Homo sapiens: one gene and its partners. The protein of the gene in region 1 purifies or fractionates together with the protein of each later gene. This does not show direct contact. Each region holds a gene or a part of one and is shown on either strand. Other genes may lie near its edges.

Region 1 (3,500 bases):
TCTTCTGAAGATAAGAACTTTCTTAGGGGTTCTAGATTGTTATGTAACTTTTCACTAATTTCTAGGTATCTGGTGACCCATCTCATGGGGGCAGATCTGAACAACATTGTGAAATGTCAGAAGCTTACAGATGACCATGTTCAGTTCCTTATCTACCAAATTCTCCGAGGTCTAAAGGTACAGATAATACAAGTAATAATTTTTTAAAATGAATTCTCCCTTTCTCCCCTCCTTTTAGGGCTTAAACAAACAAGTAAACAACTTTTCTAATGGAAAATTCAAACACATAAAATCACAGGTAAAGGTCATATAGTACAGTAAACTGCCATGTTCACTCAGTGACAACAGTTACCGACATATGGCCAATCATGTTTCTTTTGTATTTCCCAAGCCCTGGATTATTTTAAAGCAAGTCTAGACATTATATAATACCATCCATAGATACTTCAGTTTGCATATCTGAAAGATAAGGACTCTTCATTCTTACATCTAAACAATAATTTATTGATGTAATCTAATATCTGGTCAGCGTAATGTTGAGATTTTCAAAAAATCCTCAAGAAAGACTAATTTATTTGTTGGAGGGGCAGATAAACAGTGTTTTAAAATTAAACCCATCTTTGATATTTAGCTGCTTTGAGTCCTTATTGAGCTCCAGAGTGCCAACCAGAAAATAGATTAAAAGCTCAACTGAGTGGAGTCAATGGCTGTGGAAATTATAGTAATGGTAAATGTACACAATACTGATAGTTACTTATGCTGATTTCTAATCTTACTATTAACACTAGCAGTTCTTACTGATTCATGAAAATGTGCAGCAAATATGTTATATAATATGACAATAGAAGGTTGGAGGTAACTTTGACTTTTTTCTCTTTTGCAGTATATACATTCAGCTGACATAATTCACAGGGTATGTATTGTGACTTTGATTACATTATTTTGGGGAAGTGGGGTGAGAGTGGAAGAATGGCATTTAGCCAAGATCCTAATCTAAACTTTAGCCATTGAAATGTTGATTGATTGCAACTTTACTGTAGGTTTAAGCTGATTAAAGAAAGAAGATGTGTAGTTTTTTTCTATGTAAGGCTAACTTGGACTGGATATTGACTGTAGGATGGAGATTGTCTTTTGATAGCTGGATGAAGTCTTTTATGTCTGGATCCTCATTATTACCTGTAGGGGGAGAATTGATCATGCATCATAAAGTTGATCCTGTCTTCCCTGTATTTGCTTCCTAGGACCTAAAACCTAGTAATCTAGCTGTGAATGAAGACTGTGAGCTGAAGGTAAAATGAAGAGACAGTATTCATTGTTTGCTTTACTTTGAGATTATATGTTTGACTAAGCAGGCAGACTTTCTTAGGGAGTAGCTTTGTGAGCCATGACTATCTGAAATTCGTATTATTTTTATTATCAGACTTTGAAATTTAAACCATTTCTGAGTAAGCTAAGTGACATTGAAAGTGGCATCACTTGTTTTTATTTTAACATAAAGTTAAATTATAAATTTGATATATTAGTCATAATAAAGGAGGATAATAGTCAAATATCAAGTAAGTAGGCCCAAAGAGGTGATAACTAGATTAAATACATTTCTAAGAGGAGAAATGGCAGAAACCCACTCACTCAAAATAATTCAAATAAAAAATAAGTGAATTAATTGTTTCTAAATAGCAAGCAGCTCTAGAACTTTTGTTCCATTTCATTTTTTTAACTTGAAAAAATGTCTGTACATTAGAATGCACCATTTCATTTGGCAAAATTATATATCCACTTAACTCACATTTATGATAAAGACCATTTCTTTTTTTTTCCTTTTTTTTGGGATGCAGTCTCACTCTGTTGCCCAGTCTAGAGTGCAGTGGTGTGATCTTGGCTCACTGCAACCTCTGCCTCCCGGGTTCAAGCGATTCTCCTGCCTCAGCCTCCCGAGTAGCTGGGACTACAGGTGCACGCCATCACACCCGGCTAATTTTTGTATTTTTAGTAGAGATGGGATTTCACCATGTTGGCTAGGATGGTGTCGATCTCCTGACCTCGTGATCCACCTGCCTCGGCCTCTCAAAGTGCTGGGATTGCAGGTGTGAGCCATTGCTCCCAGCCAAGAACATTTGGATTACTTTAAAAAGTTTATGGCCAGGCGTGGTGGCTCATGCCTGTAATCCCAGCACTTTGGGAGGCCAAGGCGGGTGGATTATGAGGTCAGGAGATAGAGACCATCTTGGCCAACACGGTGAAACCTCATCTCCACTAAAAATACAAAAATTTAGTTGGGCATGGTGGCGGGCACCTGGAGTCCCAGCTACTTGAGAGGCTGAGGCAGGAGAATGGCGTGAACCTGGGAGGCAGAGCTTGCAGTGCGCCGAGATAGTGCCACTGCACCCCAGCCTGGGCAACAGAGCAAGACTCCGTCTCAAAAAAAAAAAAAAAAAAAAAAAAGTTTATTGTGTCCCTTCCTAGTCAATCCCTACCCCTCCACCCCTAACTCTGGCTCCAGGCAACTATGGATCTGCTTCTAACACTATAGATTAGGTTTATCTTTTCTGGAGTTTCATGTAAATGGAATCATATAGTGTGTATTTTTGTGTGTCTGGCCTTTGCTTGGTGTAATGATTCGGTATTGTTGTGTGTGTCAGTGGTTTCTTCCTTTTTATTGGTAATAGTATTTTGTTTTATGAACATAACAGAATTTTTAAATCTATCCACCTGCTGATGGACATTTGCTTGAGTTTGAGGCTGTGTAAAGCAACTGTGAATGTTTATGTGCAAACCTTTGTATGGACGTAAGTTCTCATTGCACTTGATTAAATACCTGGGAGTGACATTTTTGTTTTGCTTTTTGTAATTTCATTTTAAGTTCTTGCTGTATATTTACCATACATTCTAAGTATGGACCAGGAAATCTCTTTATGAAAGTGCTATTTTGTTCTCCTTTTTAATAAGGCAACAGAGGTTTGTTTGTTGTTGTTGTTTTGTTTTTTTTTCCCTGCCTGTTTCTAAGTCTTAGCAGTTTGTCTGTTCCTCTTCTGCCCTTTAGATTCTGGATTTTGGACTGGCTCGGCACACAGATGATGAAATGACAGGCTACGTGGCCACTAGGTGGTACAGGGCTCCTGAGATCATGCTGAACTGGATGCATTACAACCAGACAGGTATTACTCGCCTTGGTTATTTAGGGCCTTATTTAATTCCATGTTGGATGCATTTGGGATTCTCAGAAATAGAGATGGTGGGAGTGGGAAGAAATGTCTTTTCTTCCCTCAGTGATCCTTTTAAAGCCTGCAAGTAAAAATATTTCACTTCCTCAGATGGGGAAGTGGGGTTTTATACACAGCTTTTAAACCTTGTGATTTAGCAATTGGGTTTTTATTTATTTAGATTTTGAATATATTCTCTGAGTACTTATACCTAAAGACAATTAGTCCATAATTTTAACCCCTCAATGTTACTTGGAAGAATCTACCATTCTACTAATAAGAAACTTGCCCCTTTTTAAA
Region 2 (3,500 bases), on another chromosome or scaffold:
TCATCTTCACATTAAATCTGCTTTTCCTTTTGCAGATTTAATGTGAAAATTCAGGAGGCCGGGCACAGTGGCTCATGTCTGTAATCCCAGCACTGTAGGAGGCCAAGGCGGGTGGATCACCTGAGGTCAGGAGTTTGAGACCAGCCTGGCCAACATGGTGAAACCCCCGTCTCCACTAAAAAATACAAAAATTAGCTGGGTATGGTGGTAGGCACCTGTAATCCCAGCTACTTGGGAGGCTGAGGCAGGAGAATCGCTTGAACCCAGAAGGCAGAGGTTACAGTGAGCCAACATAGTGCCACTGCACTCCAGCCTGGGCAACAAGAGTGAGACTCCATCTCAAAAAAAAAAAAGAAAAAAAAAAAGAAAAGAAAAAATTCAGGATATCCTTTATCCAGGTGCTTGGATAAAAGTTTATTGAGTTCAGGCCGGGCGTGGTGGCTCACGCCTGTAATCCCAGCACTTTGGGAGGCCGAGGCAGGTGGATCACGAGGTCAGGAGATCGAGACCATCCTGGCTAACACAGTGAAACCCCATCTCTACTAAAAATGTAAAAAATTAGCCAGGTGTGGTGGCAGGCGCCTGTAGTCCCAGCTACTCGGGAGGCTGAGGCAGGAGAATGGTGAGAACCTGGGAGGCGGAGGTTGCAGTGAGCCAAGATTGTACCACTGCACTCCAGCCTGGGCGACAGAGCAAGACTCCGTCTCAAAAAAAAAAAAAAAAAAAAAAAAGTTTGTTGAGTGCCTACTGTATTTCACTGTGCCAAGCAATTAACCATCACAGCAGCTCTGTAAGATGCATAGCGTTCCCATTCTGCAAAGGACAAATTTGGGCTCACTCCCTGACGTTAAGCAACTTGCAAAACCAGAATCAGAACTCACACCTGCCAAAACAGAAAGTCTGATTCTTTTCACTGTGGCAAGATATCTCAACATTCAAGATTTTCAAAGAAATTTTATTCATACTTTTGAATTTCTATTTTACTTAATTATTCGTACTATGAGAATATAGAGCCACATGACTTTTCTTAATAATAATGGGTACTAACTAGTTCAACTCTTTACATTTCTTAATTTTAAATTTTGCTAGGCTGGGTGCAGTGGCTCACGCCTATAATCCCAGCACTTTGCGGGGGCCGAGGCGGGTGGATCACTTGAGGTCAGGAGTTGGAGACCAGCCTGGCCAACATGGTCAAACCCCATCTCTACTAAAAATACAAAAATTAGCCAGGCATGGCAGTGGGCACCTGTAATCCCAGCTACTCGGGAGGGTGAGGAAGGAGAATCGTTTGAACCCGGGAGGCAGAGGTTGTGGTGAGCCCAGATCGCACCACTGCACTCCAGCCTGGGCAACAGAGCGAGACTCCGTCTCCAAAAAAAAAAAAAATTTTTTTTGCTAAATTTTCAGCTACATGGTAGGGTAAAAAGCTTTCGGCAGCCACATTAGGAATGAATACTCCCCATTTGCAACAGTGTTACAATACAGAAAAGCACTCAGCTTCAACCACTTTTAATAAATACACTTTTAAATGCAACCCACTTCTTATGGTGGAGCCTGTCCAAGGCCGTTGCACTAAATTAATATCCGAAAAAAGAATGGAGGTTTATTCTTAAAATAGTGTATGTCACCATTTTAAGAGTTAAGAATAAATCTCACCCCATACTTCCCCTTGGTAATTATAAATAAATGAATGGATCAGCTCCTAGTGCCACCGTGCCATTACGCAGCTACATGCTATGGTCCTTTAGTCACACTGGGTCTCATGAGATAACTAGACTTCTCATCTGTACAAAGAGAGCTTGGGTCACCATCCTAAAAATGATCCCCCTCAAAATTTAAGTGATGCTCCTCATTTTGAGAATTCTAGAAGTGCTGGGCATGATATTCTTCCTAGTCACCTCACCTACCCATTTTGTTTTCTTGCTTCTTAAATGTCTTAACTTCTATTTTCATGATCCCAGGGTGCCAGCCTGGACATATCCCAACATTCATGGAATTCTGAAATCACTTACAGGGAGAGGAGATCTGAAGAGCCCATCCCAGAAAATGCTCTATGCCAACAGTAAAGACATATGCACAAAAAAGACTTTGTTCCCAAGAACTAATTTCTTTCCAAGATACCTTTTCAATTCCTCTAAATTACAGAAAGTGACATACTTCTACTTAGTGCTAAGCTCGACTTATCACCGTGGAGTTGCTGACAGTCTCCAACCAGCCAGCGTTCCTACCTTCCCTTCTACAAGAGGGGTGTGCCCTATTCCTTGAGCTAGGGTACGGGCACTCAGCAGCAGAAAGGTGGCCCATGACAGACTTGAAAGCGCACACCAGGAATTGTCTGAAACTCAGAGAATGCTGGAATTAACTTTCTTCCTGTGACCTTTAACCTAGCTGAATTTTCTTCCATTTCCAGTACTAATCGTACTTTCTTCTCACTTGCAGAATTCCCTGTTCTGTCCTGCCTGACACGTTCTCTTCTTGGTTCTTTTCACCTGAACCTTATTCTGATCTGTTACTTCCTCCTGTCCAAGACCTAAGCACTGAACATACCTCACATATTTAAATGTTACCTCCTTCAACTGAGTGAAACGGTATTCATTGCTCCTATACAACTGCTCTTTAGCCGGCCGGGCGCAGTGGCTCACGCCTGTAATCCCAGCACTGTGGGAGGCCAAGGCGGGCGGATCACGAGGTCAGGAGATCAAGACTATCCTGGCTAACACGGTGAAACCCCGTCTCTACTAAAAATACAAAAAATTAGCCAGGCGTGGTGGTGGGCGCCTGTAGTCCCAGCTACTCGGGAGGCTGAGCCAGGAGAATGGCGTTAACCTGGGAGGCGGAGCTTGCAGTGAGCCGAGATAGCGTCATTGCACTCTGGCCCGGGCGACAGAGCGAGACTCCGTTTCAAAAAAAAACAAAAAAACAAAAAAAACCCCGCTCCTTAGCCTAAACAAATGTAAAACTCAATAAGAACAGGCAAAAGGATAAAAATAAGCTTCAATTTAAGCATAAATAATAATTTAAGATGTATCCTTGATCTATTGTGCAGCCCTTAGCAAAAAGCCTTGAATCGTTAGGTGATATCTCATTAGAACAGCGGCTTAATTTCAATATTGAAGCTGCTCTCCAAACAATGAAGAAAAGCAGAAATCTCTACATTTTCTATTTCTCAACCACTCCCAGTGCTCATTTATAGGAATTACCCCTAAATTTTCCCAGTTAACCTTTCAGGGAAACACAAACCCACAGCCACAGAAAACTTTCGTCTCTCTACACTTATACTCTCTTACTTATACTCACTGCCTCTACACAGTCATATTCACTCTCTACACACTCCTCTCTTTTCCCAAGAAAGAGCTCTGTTACAGGCAGAGGAGAAAATGGAGTGCCCTAGGATACACAATGGGGCCACTGTACTAAAAGGTGGAGCTTTTAGTAGAAGTAGAGGTATTATAAATAGAACTGAAGAGGGGAAGCTTTTCTCCCTCCAATCTCTATGATCT
Region 3 (3,500 bases), on another chromosome or scaffold:
AGTAATGGCACAAGTAGTATATGAATATGACAAAAATTCTAATGGCGACACATGGTAGGATGCAGATATGGCAGAAATCAAAAAGGTGATACAAGAATGACTGAGGTTTGAGAAACAGTGTTAGAGGTCTGCTAAGCGGAGATAGGAAGATGATGCTGGTGTGAATCTTGTGGGAAAATTACCCTGTGTATCAACACAATGTATTATTACTATGACACCAGCAGTATAGAGAGGAGAACCCAGCGGTCCAGGGCTCCTTGCGGCTGTCAGGGACACTGTCTTCCTCAACCTGCCCTCTGCAGGCTCCTGGAGAGCTCGGGCTCGGGCTCCCAGCTCAGGCCTGGTCCCAGACCCAGCCCAGGCTCTATGCAGCTGAGGTTGGAAAAGGAGTCACCTTAATATCCACTTCAACCTCTTCCTGGGCCGACTTCTCATCGCTCGTATCCACATCCCCAAAGGTTAGAGTCCCATTGCGGCCGATTTTCACCTGCTTCTTGTAGGTGTAGTAGAACTCCACGCACTGGGCCACGGTCTTGGTCTGGATCTGGTTTGAAGTCAAAACTGAGGTCAGAACCCTCTGGTTTGGCTCATCTGCCTGTGGAGAATCCAGCCTTTCTCGTCCCTGCATCTTTCCCTTAACTTCAAGCCAAAATGAAACCCAGCCAACCCAGGCAATACAAGCATTTTTCCAATGCCTGCTCTGCAACAAACCACTGATCAATTAATCAATGCTTCAGCACTATTTAAAATAAGTAAATAAATAAAAAAAGCTATAAAGGACAATGTCGGAACCACTCGGGAGATGGCAATATGGATTGCATATCAGAGGGCATTACTGTATTTTTTTTTCTTTTTTTTGGAGACAGAGTCTCGCTCTGTCACTCAGGCTGGAGTGCAGTGACGCGATTTTGGCTCACTGCAACCTCCGCCTCCCAGGTTCAAATAATTCTCGTGCCTCAGCTTCCTGAGTAGCTGGGATTACAGGTGTGTGCCACCACAACCAGCTAGTTTTTTTTAAATATTTTTAGTAGACATGGGGTTTTGCCATGTTGGCCAGCCTGGTCTCAAACTCCTGGCCTCAGGAGTGATCCGTCTGCCTCTGCCTCCCAAAGTGCTGGAATCACAGGCGTGAGCTACCTCGCCTGGCCTGAATTATTTTATCAGGTTAAATTTCGTGGGCGTGCTAATGGTACTGTGGTTTTGTAGAATATCTTGGTTTTTAGGAGATACGTGCTGAAAGGTTTTAGTCATGTGACAGGATGACTGTAACTTACTTTTAATGATTAGCTGAATCAGAGAACAAGAGAGAGCTGTATATGTGTGTGTCTATGTTTAGACATAGAGAAAGAGAAAGCAAATATAGCCAATGTTAACGATTGCTAAATCTAAGTCCGGGGTGGATGGGTGTTCATTCTACTGTTCTTTCCATTTTCCTCTAAGTTTGAAATTTTTCAAACTGAAAAGTTGAGGGAAAAGGTCTGGGCACCATCTACATCCAAAGCCAGCCCTGACCTGGCAACACAGACGCTTTTCATTAATCCAGGCAAACAATTTCATTTCTCTCCAGGGAGCAGTGGCTGAGAAGTGAGCATACAGAAATGTCACAGTGTCCCCTGTCGGGGGAGGAACTCAAGGGAAACTCACAAGAAAGCCCTGGAAAACCTGAGGAGGAAGCGAAAGGCCTAAGTCTTCCTCCTGACTCTGCTACCACACAGCTATTCGAGCTTAGGCAAGTCACTCACTTTTCTAATTTCAGTTTTTTCATGTGTAAATAGCAAATGGGGTTAAGTAAGACTAGATGATCTCCAGGGACCTGCCTCTCAAGCTCTGAAATTCTAGCTCTCCCATTGCATAAATCTATTTGGCCACTGGGTTTAGTTTTTGGGCAACTTTCCCACACCCAGAGGCTGTTTCCTCTGACACCACCACACAGGCTCGCACATTGCTCAGCCACCGCTGGGCTGGGAGCTCCTGTCCAGAGAGGCCAGGGGTCAGTGTGGGCCCTTTGTGTCTGAGGAGGAAACAGACATGTTTCATCTCACAGAAATGGCCAAGTCACACATGTATTAATTAGGCCATTTACACATTTACTGTCAATTCTCTCTGACCCTTTGTTTGACTGACTAAAGGTCTGCTCATTTCATTAGGCATTAGGGGCGCCTCCGTGAATTTCACGGGCGTGTACTTCCCGTCAGTATTGCCCAATCAGGGAATAGCGTGTTACTAAAACACAGCAAAGGACTCCTCACAACAGGGCCCTTGTAGGGGAATTCATCATCAGCACTTTGTCTAGTCCCCAGGGCTGTTCCCAATACAATCTACAATCCCAAGAGGAAAGGGCATGCTCTTTTTAAAAACTCTTTTCCCTTGGCAGTCCACACAATTCTCTCTCCCCACAGCCCAGATTTTGTGAGACAGGGCTGGAAAGATGCAATTCCTTGGATTAGCAAAGCATCTGCTTTTCCAGAAGAATATGGAGAGAGGACAAGATAAATCTAGGGAATGTGGGCTTGAACAGCTGAGTTACTGGAAGGCAACTCTGGGTCAAAGGAAGTGGGCAGAGGCCCCCAGGTCAGCTCCGCAGGCACTTGCTGGCTCTCAGTGGCCTTCACCCCAGGGTGCCCTCCCCCTGCATCTTCCTCTGGGGAATGGCTCACCTCTACTTGCCACCCTCCTCCGCATCTTCCTCCTGCCTATTTTAAGTCTGATGCCCACTTAGGCCTCCTTCTGGATTGAGACCCCAGAGCTTGGCCACCCTACCCTGAAGTGAGGAAAGGATGCTTAGAACCAAAAGGGAAAAGAGACCTATCTTTCTCTTTCTTGTATTGTTTAGGAAATTCTCTCTGAGGCTACTCAGTAGCATTGACCTGACTGCTTTTTAAGAGGGATTGGTCACTGGCAGAGGGAGCCCCAAAGTCACACAGGCAGCTCCTGGCCCTCATTTGCCCTGAAACAGAGCCCAGCTCACCAGCTTCTGCACCAGGAAGAAATCCTTCTTGTAGATGGCAATGCCTTTGTTGAACAGCTTCCTCTCGGCCATCTTCCACTGGTCAGAGCCTATGGGGCAAAGAGGCAGCCAGGGAGTGAGGTGGGCAGGGCCCTGGCCACTGCAGGGCAATTTTGACAAGCAAAAAAGTGTGAGGCCATCCGCCCATGGTTTCTGCAGGCATCAGAGCCGGCTCCTCGTCCCACTTCCATGTGCCTCACAGCCTCGCTCCCTTGCTTGTGAAATGGAAACTAATATCACCTAGCTCACCAGCTGTGGTGAGGATTAAATAAGATAATGCATGTGAAACCCTTGGTGCTCTGCCTGGTGCAGATGAAATGTAGCACTAACATGCATGGAAAACATTGGCTGTTAGGATTATGTGACTCGGTCCATGTCCTTCTTAAAGTGACCAGAACAGGACATGCACTCCTGGGGCTAAGTTCCAGGTACCTGATGCCAATCTGGATGGCTCTCCATGGGTTCCTGTCCTTGTGGCCTGGGCTTTTTTGCC
Region 4 (3,500 bases), on another chromosome or scaffold:
GTGCCGGGAGGCCGTCCATCGGAGGACACACCAGCCCTTCTTCATCTGCTCCCAGCGCAGGGACGCTTGGCTGTTTCTGGATTTGGGCCCTTCTGAATAGAACTAACTGCCCAAATAGAACTGAATAGCACTGGGCTCCTCGAGCACTCCACGTCCCCAGCACTCAGGACTGTTGGTGGCTTTGATGTTGAGCCTGTTGTGGACTCCGGTTGTTGAATGTTGTTCCGTTGTCTAGAATGTTCTAGAATGTGTCGTTTTTTCTGTTTTTAAGGTTTTTATCTTTGATTTAAAATATTGACTATGCTCTCCTTAGATGAGGCTTTCTGTTTTTATCCTGCTTGGGATCCACTGACTTCTTGGATCTCTGTGTTGGTACTTTTTCAAATTAACTTTGGAAAAATGTGAGCCATTATTTCATGAAACGTTTTTCCATCTCAGCTTTGCTTTGCTTTGTTTTGTTTTGTTTTTGAGATGGAGTTTCACTCTTGTTGCCCAGCCTGGAGTGCAGTGGCACCATCTCGGCTCACCACAACCTCTGCCTCTCGGGTTCAAGCAATTCTCTTGCCTCAGCCTCCCGAGTAGCTGGGATTACAGGCGTGAGCCACCATGCCTGGCTAATTTTTTATATTTTTAGTAGAGATGGGGTTTCACCTTGTTGGCCAGGCTGGTCTTGAACTCCTGACCTCAGGTGATCCACCTGCCTCGGCCTCCCAAAGTGCTGGGATTACACATGTGAGTTACCGCGCCTCGCCTGCTTTGTTTTTTTTTTTTTTTGAGACAGAGTCTCGCTCTGTCACCCAGGCTGGAGTGCAGTGGCGTAACCTCAGCTCACTGCAAGCTCTGCCTCCCAGGTTCGTGCCATTCTCCTGCCTCAGTCTCCCAAGTAGCTGGGACTACAGCCGCCCGCCACCACACCCAGCTAATTTTTTGTATTTTTAGTAGAGACGGGGTTTCGCCGTGTTAGCCAGGATGGTCTCCATTTCCTGACCTCGTGATCTGCCCGCCTCGGCCTCCCAAAGTGCTGGGATTACAGGCGTGAGCCACCGCGCCTGGCCTTGCTTTGGTTTTTTGAGACAGAGTCTCACTCTCTTGCCCAGGCTGGAGTGCAGTGGCGCGATCTCGGCTCACTGCAACCTCCGCCTCCTGGGTTCAAGCAATTCTGCCTCAGCCTCCCAAGTAGATGAGATTACAGGTGCCTGCCACCACGCCCAGCTAAATTTTTGTATTTTTAGTAGAGACAGGGTTTTGCCATGTTGGCAAACTCCTGACCTCAGGTGATCTGCCCGCCTTGGCCTCTGAAAGTGCTGGGATTACAGGCGTGGGCCACCATACCCAGCCTTGCTCTCATTCCTGGGTTCTGGTTCTGCGTGTGACAGGAGTGCTTGGCCCTGTCCCCAGGTCCCTCAGCCCTGGCTGTTTTCCGTCTGCCTCTGTGCTCTCCTGGTGTCAGGCTGTGCGGCTGCTGCTGCTGCTGCTTGAAAGTTTACTCTTTTTCTGCAGCCTCCAACCCCAGAAGTCCATGTGGTGAATCTTTGATTGCTTAGTGGCATTTTTCGGTTTCGTCTGATTGTCCATTCGCTCTCAGCTGAGATTTCCCATGTGCACATTCACTTTGGCCATCTTTTCCTTTAAATCTTTGAACATGTTTGTGCTGTTTCTTAGTCCATTTTGTGCTGCTGTAACAGAATGCCACAGACTGGGTCATTTATTTTTATTTATTATTTATTATTTTTTGAGATGGAGTCTTGCTCTGTTGCCCAGGCTGGAGTGCAGTGGTACTATCTTGGCTCACCACAACCTCCGCCTCCCGGGTTCAAGCAATTCTCCTGCCTCAGCCTCCCGAGTAGCTGGGATTACAGGCGCCCGTCACCACACCCAGCTAATTTTTGTATTTTCAGTAGAGACAGGGTTTCACTGTGTGTTGGTTGGCTAGGCTGGTCTCAAACTCCTGACCTCGTGATCTACCTGCCTCAGCCTCCCAAAGTGCTAGGGTTACAGGCATGAGCCACTGCACCTGGCCAGATCATTTATAATGAACAGAAATTGATGGGCTCACCGTTCTGGAGGCTGGTGAGCCCCAGATTGAGGGTGGCGTCTGGCAAAGACCTTCTTGCCATGTCATGGCAAGAAGGCATGGTGGAAGGCAGGACGGCACAGACCGGAGGGGGCTGGATTCGCCCTTTAGTCAGGAACCCACTCCCCTGCTGATGGCATTCACTCATCCACGAGGGCAGCGACTCAGATCCTCTCTCTAGGCCCCAGCCCCAGCCCCAGCAGTGCTGGATTGGGGACCAGGTTCCCAACACATGACCCTTGGGGGGTGCATCAAAGACACAGCACTGTGTGGAGTGACGTCTGTGCTGCTTCTTCCTCCCTTGTCACGGTCACACCTCCCTCACTCACCTGTGGGACAGCCTCACTGGGCGTGGCCGTGGTGTGTGCCGTGAGGTGTGGAGGGTGCCGTCTCCCGGCTTGAGCGCTGAGTTTGTCCCCGTGGCTCACCTTGTTTCTGTCAGGTTGGTTTCAGCGTTGCTGGGGCAAGGCTGAGGGTAAACATGAGCGACTCCAAGGCCAGGGAGCCCTGTGCCAAGGTGTGGACCTTTTGGGTTCTCAGCTGAAGTAGAGAATCCAGGGAGGACCCCGCACTCCGGCCATTGGAGCTGTGGCGTCCTCCCTCCTGTGTGTCCCCCGGAACCTCCTGAGCCTCTCTGGAGCTGTTCTCTGCCAGGCCCCGTGGGCTCTCCTGCCCTCTGCATGCATCGCGAGTACTGCCGGAGGAGGCCCCTTTGGCTTTCAGAGCCCAGAGCGCCCGACCTCCTCCAGGAGTCTGCAGATCCACAGGCCTCAGATGCTGCCACACCCACCCAGCACACACCCAGGTCTCTGACACGCCAGCCGCACACAGCGGTGGGGTTCAGGCGAAGGTTTCTTCCACAGTGCAGAGTAGAAGAGCCGGGAAGGACCCCATCACCATCAGATGCATCAGAGCTTCAAAGGCCCGCCCATCAAGACGCTGCCAAGAGCATGAGGCCAGCCAGGCTGGGGAGGACGTTGGCGAGCATCCGCCTGCCCGTCAGGGAGCCACAGCTGGATGATACATCGACAGACAGCAGAGGGACGGTGTAGCACACAGGCGAGGGCTTGTCCTCCTCAGCCTGGGGGAGCGCAGCTCAGTGCTTGGTGGTCAGCACGTGACTGACACTTTGCCGGAGAAGGGGACGGCTGCCCGCAGGAAGAGCTACACAGCCGTGTTCGCCGGAACTCCGCTCTGGAGAGTCAGAACTGGAGACGGGAGGGCGTGCCTCAAGGGCAGATGGGCAAACCAAACCCCATCCTCCCTGTGAGCCGCGGCACAGCACCAGGCGGGCACACGCAGCACGACACGGCGAGGAGCCCACCGCAGGGGCAGCCTTTTGGGCGGGGAAGGGGGGATGAATCCACTGTGAATCCCACCTCCGAAGGGCAGCGCAGGAAGGACACGCAAATGCTGGACTGAACCT

The links. Proteins that work in one complex are often made in the same cells at the same time.
Region 2: the proteins of MAPK14 (region 1) and IQGAP1 purify together in Homo sapiens (affinity purification with mass spectrometry; 5 studies listed by BioGRID and IntAct, with this or other methods). This does not show direct contact.
Region 3: the proteins of MAPK14 (region 1) and MIDEAS purify together in Homo sapiens (affinity purification with mass spectrometry; 4 studies listed by BioGRID and IntAct, with this or other methods). This does not show direct contact.
Region 4: the proteins of MAPK14 (region 1) and CSNK1G2 purify together in Homo sapiens (affinity purification with mass spectrometry; 4 studies listed by BioGRID and IntAct, with this or other methods). This does not show direct contact.

What each region holds. Positions count from the first base shown.
Region 1 is NC_000006.12:36,072,808-36,076,307, forward strand, and holds part of MAPK14 (mitogen-activated protein kinase 14), read left to right. Parts: intron 1-65; coding exon 66-177; intron 178-883; coding exon 884-913; intron 914-1,241; coding exon 1,242-1,289; intron 1,290-3,040; coding exon 3,041-3,155; intron 3,156-3,500. UniProt on the Homo sapiens protein: Serine/threonine kinase which acts as an essential component of the MAP kinase signal transduction pathway.
Region 2 is NC_000015.10:90,394,742-90,398,241, reverse strand, and holds part of IQGAP1 (ras GTPase-activating-like protein IQGAP1), read right to left. Parts: intron 1-3,500. UniProt on the Homo sapiens protein: Plays a crucial role in regulating the dynamics and assembly of the actin cytoskeleton.
Region 3 is NC_000014.9:73,722,304-73,725,803, forward strand, and holds part of MIDEAS (mitotic deacetylase-associated SANT domain protein), read right to left. Parts: intron 3,058-3,500; coding exon 2,969-3,057; intron 545-2,968; coding exon 395-544; intron 1-394.
Region 4 is NC_000019.10:1,972,172-1,975,671, forward strand, and holds part of CSNK1G2 (casein kinase I), read left to right. Parts: intron 1-2,937; exon of another isoform or gene 2,938-3,500. UniProt on the Homo sapiens protein: Serine/threonine-protein kinase. Casein kinases are operationally defined by their preferential utilization of acidic proteins such as caseins as substrates. It can phosphorylate a large number of proteins. Participates in Wnt signaling.